Regions from separate parts of the Homo sapiens genome. Here regions 2 and 3 are each linked to region 1. The links come from fine-mapping of genetic effects on gene expression. A gene starts in region 1. Each other region holds a variant in brackets. All regions are shown on one strand. Distances are from middle to middle.

Region 1 (2,668 bases):
AAAAGTGGCCAACACCATCTCTTTTCCACAAGCACTCGGGAGAACATTCATATTCAATTGCCTTCCTAAGACCCAGACGGGGCAGCGCTCTCCACAGGCCACCAAAAGGTGTTGCCTGTTTGGTTTCATCAGTGATTATCTGTGGCAGCAAGACAGGAAGTTGGAAATCAAGTACCTCAATTAAGTCAAGGCTGACCGTGGAATTAGAGAACAAGTGTTTGTTACCCCGGCCAGGTCACCCTAGGGAAAACAGGCATTCTCCGGGATTGAAATGGTGGTGTTTGTGTGGTAAATAGTTCTCAGTCCAGTTCAAAGCCAGCAGCATTAAGGACACGCCACCGCCACCGGGAGCTGGAGACCAGGCGAAGCTGAGCTCCTCTGTGGTTCACCAACCCCTCAGGCCGCCTAAGTGTCTTCTGCTGTCGCAGCTTTGGGGACAGAGGGGTTTCGGAAACAGGGGCCTCTTGTCTGCACCCTCCCCTCCCACTGACAGGCTGGCAGCCCAGGGCAGCCACCTGAGGAGCGTCCCTGTGTCTCTCCATCTGCAGAGCAGGAAAAGCCTGCGGGTCGGTGGCGCCACGCTGGGGCGAGACCCAGCTTCGGCTCAGGAGATCTCCCACCCAGCCGGACTCCCGCTCTCTGCCCGCGGCCCCCTCCCACACTCCCACCTCGCCCCGCGATCTCACTGCCCCATCGAGGCTTCCGGGCGGAGGAGAAAAGTTTTCCGGCAGGAACCCGGGAAGGAAGCCCTGGGACCCTGGCTGAAACTCCGGGTTTCCCCAGTGCCGAGTCCCTTCCCCGCCGCGCCCAGCGCCTGCGCCCCGGGAGGCGGAAGCAACAGGGGGGTTCCTCCCCGCGGCCTCTGACCTCTGCCCTCTGCCCTCTGCCCCCAGGGTCTGGGGCCCGGGCGGAGGCGCGAGGGGGCAGGGCCGGCGCGCGGGTGCGAGCGCGGGTGTGGGCGCGGGGCCGGCGGGGGCTGCGGCCGCGGGGCGCATGCTCACTTGCGCCGGTGACGTGCGCGCCCGGAGCAGGGGCAGGAGCCAGCGGGGCCCGGAGGCTCCAGAGGGCGGCGGGCAGGGGAGGAGGAGACTCGGGAGGAGCAGAGCGCAGGCTCCGCCGCGGCCGGGGTGCTCCAGCCGAGCCCAACCGAGCGGGCGGACCGACGGGGAGAGAGAAGGCGCCAGAGCGCGCGCGCGCGGCCCCGAGCAGCAGCCTTGCCGCCAGTGGAGCAGCTGCCGACGCGCGGGGCCGCGGACCCAGCATTCGCCGGCCGGGCCGGGCATGAGCGCGGAGGGGCCGCGGCCGCCCCCTGCACCGCCCGGCGCGCCGAGGCCGTGACCGGAGCGGGGGGCGCGGCCGCACTAGTACCCCGGAGCCCATGGGCGCGCCGAGCCGGGCGCGGGGGCGCTGAACGGCGGAGCGGGAGCGGCCGGAGGAGCCATGGACTGCAGCCTCGTGCGGACGCTCGTGCACAGATACGTGAGTGCTCCCGGCGCGGGCTGGGGGACCCGGGGACCAGACAGACGCGGGCCGGCCCCGCAGCCCGGACCCTGTGGCCGGTCCAGCCCCGGGGTCCCGGGAGGTCTCCGATGTCTGGGACTCGGACCGCCCCCGGGGACGAGCGGGATGCTGGGGAGGGGCCTCGGAGTTGACACCCTGGGGCTTCCGACGGGGTCTAGGTGGGCACAGCGCGGGGCCCCAGCCCCGGGCGGCCACCTGCTCCCTGGCCGCGGCCGCCTGGCGCCCCCTTCCCGCCCGCAGCGCCCTGGGGGTCCCTCGGAGAGGCTGGCTGGGGTTCGAGCTGTCCCGGCGGACCGGGCGCCCGGAGGGAGCCAACTTCGACCCCGCCGGGGCCCGGGTCTGGGGAGGAACCTTCAGATGCGGCTTCCGCGCAGCCGTGTCTGTAAGATTAAGGGATTGGGAGGAAGCGTTACACTTCTGCAGAAAAAGGTAGCAATTGTGTTTGTTCTTTAACACCCCTGGGGGATTCAGAAGCGGAGTTTGGAATCTTTTTATTTTTTACCTTAAAGTAACCAATTAGATCAGAAGTCCGGGGTCTTCTTGGGTTCCTCTGGAATTTGCCCCTTCAGTGATAAGCAAGTGAAGAGCTCAGGAGGGAAGACTCGGAAGGGGAAAAGTTGATTTTGTTTTACACCAGAGGAGGGGAAACCGGAATCCCTGGCGTTAGGTGTAAAAAGGGGTGTGTGGCCGGGCGCGGTGGCTCACGCCTGTAATCCCAGCACTTTTGGAGGCCGAGGCGGGCGGATCACGAGGTCAGGAGTTTGAGACCAGCCGGACCGACATGGTGAAACCCCGTCTCTGCTAAAAAATACGAAAATTAGCCGGGCGTGGTGGTAGGCGCCTGGGATCCCAGCTACTCAGGAGGCTGAGGCAGGAGAATCGCTTGAACCCGGGAGGCGGTGGTTGCAATGAGCCGAGATCGAGCCACTGCACTCCAACCTGGGTGACAGAGCGAGACTCTGTATCAAAAAAAAAAAAAAAAAAGGGTGTGTGTGTGTGTGTGTGTGTGTAGGAGAGGAAGAAAACTGTCCCAAGCACAGCGTTTCCTGCCACTGTCTTGCACAAGAGGCTTCATTGTTCCATAGAGGCTGGCGGTCACTGGTCAATCACAGGTTCGAGAAGTCGCATGCACCGGGTTTGATACTAG
Region 2 (2,794 bases), 180 kb after region 1:
TGATAACAGCTTGTGACGAGTTATACGGAGGAACAGACCAGGATTCCGCACCAGGGGACCCATGTCAGATTGAAAGGCCAGAGGTGACTTTTCAGAAACAGTCATTTGAAACCTGGAAGAAGAGCGCCATCATCACAGCAAGTCCCAGCTGGTAACCGCCTCCCACAACGAGGCACTGGCCAGGCATTCGACAGGTCCTGTCTCACTCCATCCTCACGCCCCGCAGCAAGATGGGGCCCAGGCATGGTGGGGCTGGACCTTGCCCGCAGCAGCCTGACTCATCGGGGAGCCTCTGGTTTGGGGGAGAGCAGCAGGCACGCAGGCCCGGGCGGGAGGAGGTCCTCCGTGAGTGGGAGCCGTGGCCAGCGGAGAGGGGCCCGGACCAGGCTGCAGAGCAGGCATGGTGGCCTCCTGGACCGCCGGCCGTGAGGATCCTGGCTCGAGGCTGTCGTGGTCAGTCGAGGCAGAGCACAGCAGAGTTGAGTGGCTCTTTTAAAAACCCCACGGTGGCTGCGTGTTGAGCTGGTGAGAGCGACATAGGCAGGGTGGTCAGTCTAGAGACTGTCGCTGTAAGCCAGGAAACGACGCTGAGTGGTATGGGCCCAGGGCCAGGTCCCAGTCTCAGCCCCAGCGCAGCAGCCTCTGCCACAGCCCTCTGCAGACCTGGGGTCAGTAGCCGGCCTAGGGAAAGCCAGCAACCCACTCAGGATCCCTCAGGGCCCCTGACCTGGGCGGGACTCTCAGCCCAGGAAGAGTCCCTCCGGATTCTCTCGTTCAGCCAGCGGCCCCTGGTGGCCCCAAGTTGCATTACACAGTCTCAGAGATGACAGCCCAGCTTGGAGGGTGTCAGGCACCCTGTCAGCCCCAGAGAAACCTGCTTAGCTCTAGAGAGCCCAGCCCGGCTCTGGAGAGCCCGGCCATTCTAACAGCCCTGAAGGCGATGGCTCTGTAAGAGGAAGATTCCATCCCAAACCTCTCTGACCAGCTCCTGGGCTTTGTAGCCAAGGAGCCACAGCCCGTCAGCCTTGGTAGAACCACAGCCTCTCACATTGTTTCCTAAAACATTGACCCCACGTCTTTGATGTGCTGGGAGCTCACCATGTCACCACCGCTTGGTGATGAGACCCCATCCTCCTGCCCGCCACCAGCACCACGTGGGTGCCCCCAGCCCCATCCCAGGTCTGCCAGCAGCT[G/C]CGTGTCCCTCCCGTTACCCACCATGCCCTGCTTCCGTTTCCCTCCTGTTGTCCACACACCAGTTTCACTGTGCTTCCTGGAGCTGGGGCCCTATCTCTGTGTCTCTGCCACCATCCGTAGTGCCTGGGATGTGAAAGGCGATCAGGAAACGTTACCGGAAGGCACGTATAGACGTGGACCTGTGGGCTCGGGCTGGCTGCGGGTCACTGGTCCCTGCATCCTTGCCAGCCTCCCTCATGGAGGCTGACGCAGACGTCTTTGAATCATCCTCTTTCTGGGGAGAGAAGTCATTGCTTGCTCTGTACTGACGACCAGTGCTCGGGACGTCCTTCCCATCCGAGACTTCAAGATAGAAAAACATCCCTATTTCAATCCCTTTGTGTTTTGTTTTTTGTTTTTTTTTTTTTTGCTTCTGTGAAACTGAACTTCAGAGACTTCTATGTCCCATTTGAGATGACTTCATAGAATTCCTTCTCCCGTTCCTCTTACCCCAGCATTACCGGGAGGTTCAGTGTTCATTTTTTATATGATAAATTCAGAGCAGGCTCCGTGGCTTGCCAAGCAACTCTCACTGACAAAAGTGTAAACTCCCTGAACAGACGGCCTCTCCAGTGAGTAGAGAGGCCAGCCCCAGGGAGTACATGCCTCACCAGCGGCTTCTCTTCCCTGCCCCTCAGGCCGTTCCTCAACTACCAGAGGATGTACTACGTGTTCATCCAGATGCTGTCCAGCGGGCCCGCCTGGCTGGCCATCGTGCTGCTGGTGACCATCAGCCTCCTTCCCGACGTCCTCAAGAAAGTCCTGTGCCGGCAGCTGTGGCCAACAGCAACAGAGAGAGTCCAGGTACGGAGTGTCCCCAGCCGGGGCGGGGGTGCCTCAGGGCCCTGGCCTTAGGATTGGGAGATGACCGTTTTGAAAGACAGTGTGAAAGGTTTGGATTTCATGAAACGTGATCAGTTCAGGTATCACTAATGAGTGTCCTGACGGTGCATGATGTTAAACATCAGGTACATTTGCGATGACCGATGTCTAATTTTATGTTTCAACCTAAACAGTCATCTGAAATGAGACACAAATAAGAGAAAAAAGACTGATGCAAAAGGCAAATTATTTCATGTAAATGGAAACCTTTTTTAAAATTAATCATTACTTTAAAAGGTTGAATTACATAATTTTTAAGGATGGTAAATCTGGCTGGAAACGGTAGCATCTGTATCAGGAAATGCTGGTATTGGTGGAGCTGCTTATTTTACACACTCCCAAGTTTTAGGCACAAGCAGAATTCTGGGTCCAGGGAAGACGTGACGATGCCGAGTGTCCCCCCAGGTGCAGGGTTTGGCAGGTGTGAGGACTTAGCTCCCGGTCCCCCATCCTTTTCAGCAGCTGGCCTCTGCCTTCAAGCTCAACCCTAAATCAGAGGCAGTGACCACGACCCACCTCTGCTGCTTTACTGGGAAGCCTGCCTGTCCTCAGAGGGCCGCTGCACCTGTCACGGTCCCTCAGGACTCTATTAACAATGCAAGTTTTCAAGTTTCATCCCCGAAATTTCCAATCACTCCTTGAGGTGGAGCCCTGGACTGGGCAGTGCTGAAGCCCAATG
Region 3 (2,794 bases), 180 kb after region 1:
AAGTTATGCTGGCCGTGGATGTTTTTATACATCAGAGTTAAATGGGTCTGGTCTGAGGACTTTTTGAGCAGAAAGCTTCTATAGGAATACCCATTCTCAAAGGAGGGAGGAAGTGGGGGCATGGGGCTTAGCCTGCAGTGGTGGAGGGTGGCCAGCCCCAGAGGCAGATCTGCTGAAGGAGTGAGGCTTTCGCACTGGTCAGGTTCTTGGCTGAGATGTGCCTGTCACATGAGGACAGGGTTCCACAGAAATCAGAAACAGGAGCTTCACTGGGGATGGCGTTGATGTCACTTGGAAGAAAAGGGTCCCTGTGAAAAGCCCTTTGAAAAAGGAGATTGGTATCCCAGGGATGCCTGCCACCCCCAGAATCTGATGGAAATAACGACCAGCAATTGTAGTAATAAACTATCCGCACATGTTAGTCCATTTTCACATGGCTCTGAAGAGCTACCTGAGACAGGGTGATTTAGGAAGAAAAGAGGTTTAATCGAGCCACAGTTCTGCAGGCTGCATAGGAAGCATCGCTGGGGAGGCCTCAGGAAACTTACAATCATGGCGGAAGGCAAAGGGGAAGCAAGGCCCTTCTTTACAAGGCTGCAGGAGAGAGAGAGCAAAGGGGAAAATGCTACACACTTTGAAACAACCAGATCTCATGAGAACTCACTCGCCCACCGTCAACGAGATCTGCAAGGAGGACGTCCATGATTCAGTCACCTCCCACCAGGCTCTCCCTCCAACACACGGGGATTATAATTTGAGATGAGATTTGGGTGAGGACACAAAGCCAAACCACATCATGGCAGTTCACCTGGGGGCCCCACTTCAGGCCACCAAGGGAATAAGAGGGCTTTCCAGAGATGCGTTTCAGGATAGCTCCACAGTGGACTAGCTTCCAAAGGACGTGGACACAGGTTAGTAATGGGTCAGCGTTTCTCAGGGGCCCTGACCAAGGTGCCTGATTCTGGATTCACGATAGCTGTGCTTTGTTCCTCACCTATAAAGCTTACAGCTGTGGCCCATGTGCTCTGCAGGACCAGGCATCCTGAGGCCTAACTCCTTATCCCAGTTCTGCCATTACCCCCTAAACCCAGGGAGCCCCAGCTGGGAGCTTAGAAAGGCAG[T/C]TTCTCGGCTCACAGCAGGGAGAGGGGACAGTGAGGAGGCCGTGTGAGTTGACTGCAGTTATCACCTGTGGCGCTGTTGGTGACACACACTGCTTCACAGGGCACCCTTGAGTTCATGTCTTGCTGCCATCTAACTCTTTCAGAGTTCTGTGTTGGGATGGCCAAGGTGAGGCCTGGGGGAGGAAGAGGAGAGCTGGGCAGCGTCAGGGGCTTTTCCTCCAGGCCCAGCTGATGTGGTTGTCTGGGTGCAAAGCCGCCCTCAGCTGCTGTGGAGGCACCACTTGGCTGAAAGCATCAGCTTCCAGTTACAGCACAGCAGCCTCCCGCCCTCCAGCACCTTGCTGGCCACATGTGCTTGTAGGCTGCTGCCAAGCCACAGCTGTTCCTAGAGGCATGATATTTTCCTGCCCCAGAAGTTAAGCCACAAAGAGACGGCACTTTTTGGTGAGTGTGAAACAGGCTTCTCACCCGGGCTCTGCTGACATTGGGGCCAGATGTACATCCTCGTGGGCCACTGTCGTGTGCACTCAGCAGCCCCTCCACCCCCCCATCCAAAGCTAGCAGACCCCACGCCCCAGAAATGTCTCCACCACGGCCAGGTGTCCCTGGGGGCAAGGCTGCCCCAGCCGAGAACCACAAGCATGTGTAGATCTGAGTGACACTGTAGGCCAGGCATTTCCAAGCCAGAAGGAGGAGGCCCACTTCTGATCACAATGAGGAAGTGAGGGAAAAACTGAAGGATGTGTTGATGGGGGCCCCTAAGAAGCGGTGTTCACTACAAAAGGTCCTAACACTTTTTTCTATAATCTACAAATGAGATGTTATCCTGTTATCCCACTGACCATGTGGGAGGACTGTAGCCCACACCCTCCCTCAGCTAAATCAAGGGGTATGGTGATGGGTGTGTTGTTTTGGTTGAAACTGAATTCTGAAGAACAGCCATTTGTATTCCAGCTTTTTAAGAGACAGAGTCTGTGCTCTGTCGCCCACGTTGGAGTGTAGTGGCGTGATCTCTGCTCACTGCAACCTCCGCCTCCCGGGCTCAAGCAATTCTCCTGCCTCAGCCTCCCTAGTGGCTGAGATTACAGGCAGGCGCCGCTACGCCCGGCTAATGTTTGTATTCTTAGTAGAGACGGGGTTTCACCATGTTGGCCAGGCTGGTCTCAAACTCTTGACCTCATGATCCGCCCACCTCGGCCTCCCAAAGCGCTGGGATTACAGGCATGAGCCACCACACCCGGCCCGCTTTTTAATTCTTTATAAAATAAAATTCCCTGCGAGGTGCAGTTCATGGAATCCGATAAACTAGAAATCGTCTGGGCCACAGCGCAGGAGCGTCCCAAAGGAAAGCAGGTTCTCCCGAAACAAGTTTCCAGTCGGGGGTTTTCCCCAAGGCGGGGGGTGGTCTGGGCAGCAGCCCTTTCTGGCCTGTGCCTCGTGCGGTAGAGAGGCGTGCTGTCCTCACGGGTCGGGCACGCGGTCCTCACGGGTGTGTCTGTGTCTGTGCTGCGTTGCCAGCTGGCAGCTCGTGGGTCCCACTGACCTTCCCTCCTCCACGGCCACCTGGGCACCACTGCTGGCGGATCTGTGGTTCTGGCCGCACGCGGGGCAGCCTCTGTCCAGCCCTGTCCTGTCTGCCGGCTTGTCTTCTCTGTCCTGAGGGAGGTTCCCCG

Which allele goes with the higher level. Positions count from the first base shown, and alleles are read on the strand shown. Sizes are in standard deviations (SD) of each study's normalised expression. Not every link is listed here.
With allele G in place of C in region 2, the expression in whole blood of the gene that starts at base 1,062 in region 1 is higher (small effect, 0.24 SD a copy in GTEx).

The links. PIP is the estimated chance that this variant, and not a neighbour inherited with it, causes the effect.
Region 2: its variant is fine-mapped to the expression of ATP11A in whole blood (TOPMed, PIP above 0.99).
Region 3: its variant is fine-mapped to the expression of ATP11A in T cells (TOPMed, PIP above 0.99). The same link has a PIP of 0.9 or more in blood mononuclear cells.

The regions. Positions count from the first base shown.
Region 1 is chr13:112,688,977-112,691,644 of GRCh38, forward strand. ATP11A (ATPase phospholipid transporting 11A) reads left to right here and starts at 1,062. Exons shown (of 30, transcript NM_015205.3): 1 at 1,062-1,479. The coding sequence starts at 1,441. LOC102725228 (a long non-coding RNA gene) reads right to left here and starts at 839. Exons shown (of 2, transcript NR_187633.1): 1 at 687-839. RefSeq lists an enhancer at 1-416 and silencers at 665-1,594, 1,615-1,854.
Region 2 is chr13:112,873,905-112,876,698 of GRCh38, forward strand. It overlaps ATP11A (ATPase phospholipid transporting 11A), which reads left to right. Exons shown (of 30, transcript NM_015205.3): 28 at 1,872-2,037. Among named protein-coding and RNA genes, the nearest start is that of MCF2L-AS1, 93 kb to the right of the region's middle. RefSeq lists a silencer at 1,328-1,517. The variant G/C (reference allele first, on the strand shown) is at 1,194.
Region 3 is chr13:112,868,313-112,871,106 of GRCh38, forward strand. All of the region lies in intron 25 of ATP11A (ATPase phospholipid transporting 11A), which reads left to right. Among named protein-coding and RNA genes, the nearest start is that of MCF2L-AS1, 99 kb to the right of the region's middle. The variant T/C (reference allele first, on the strand shown) is at 1,122.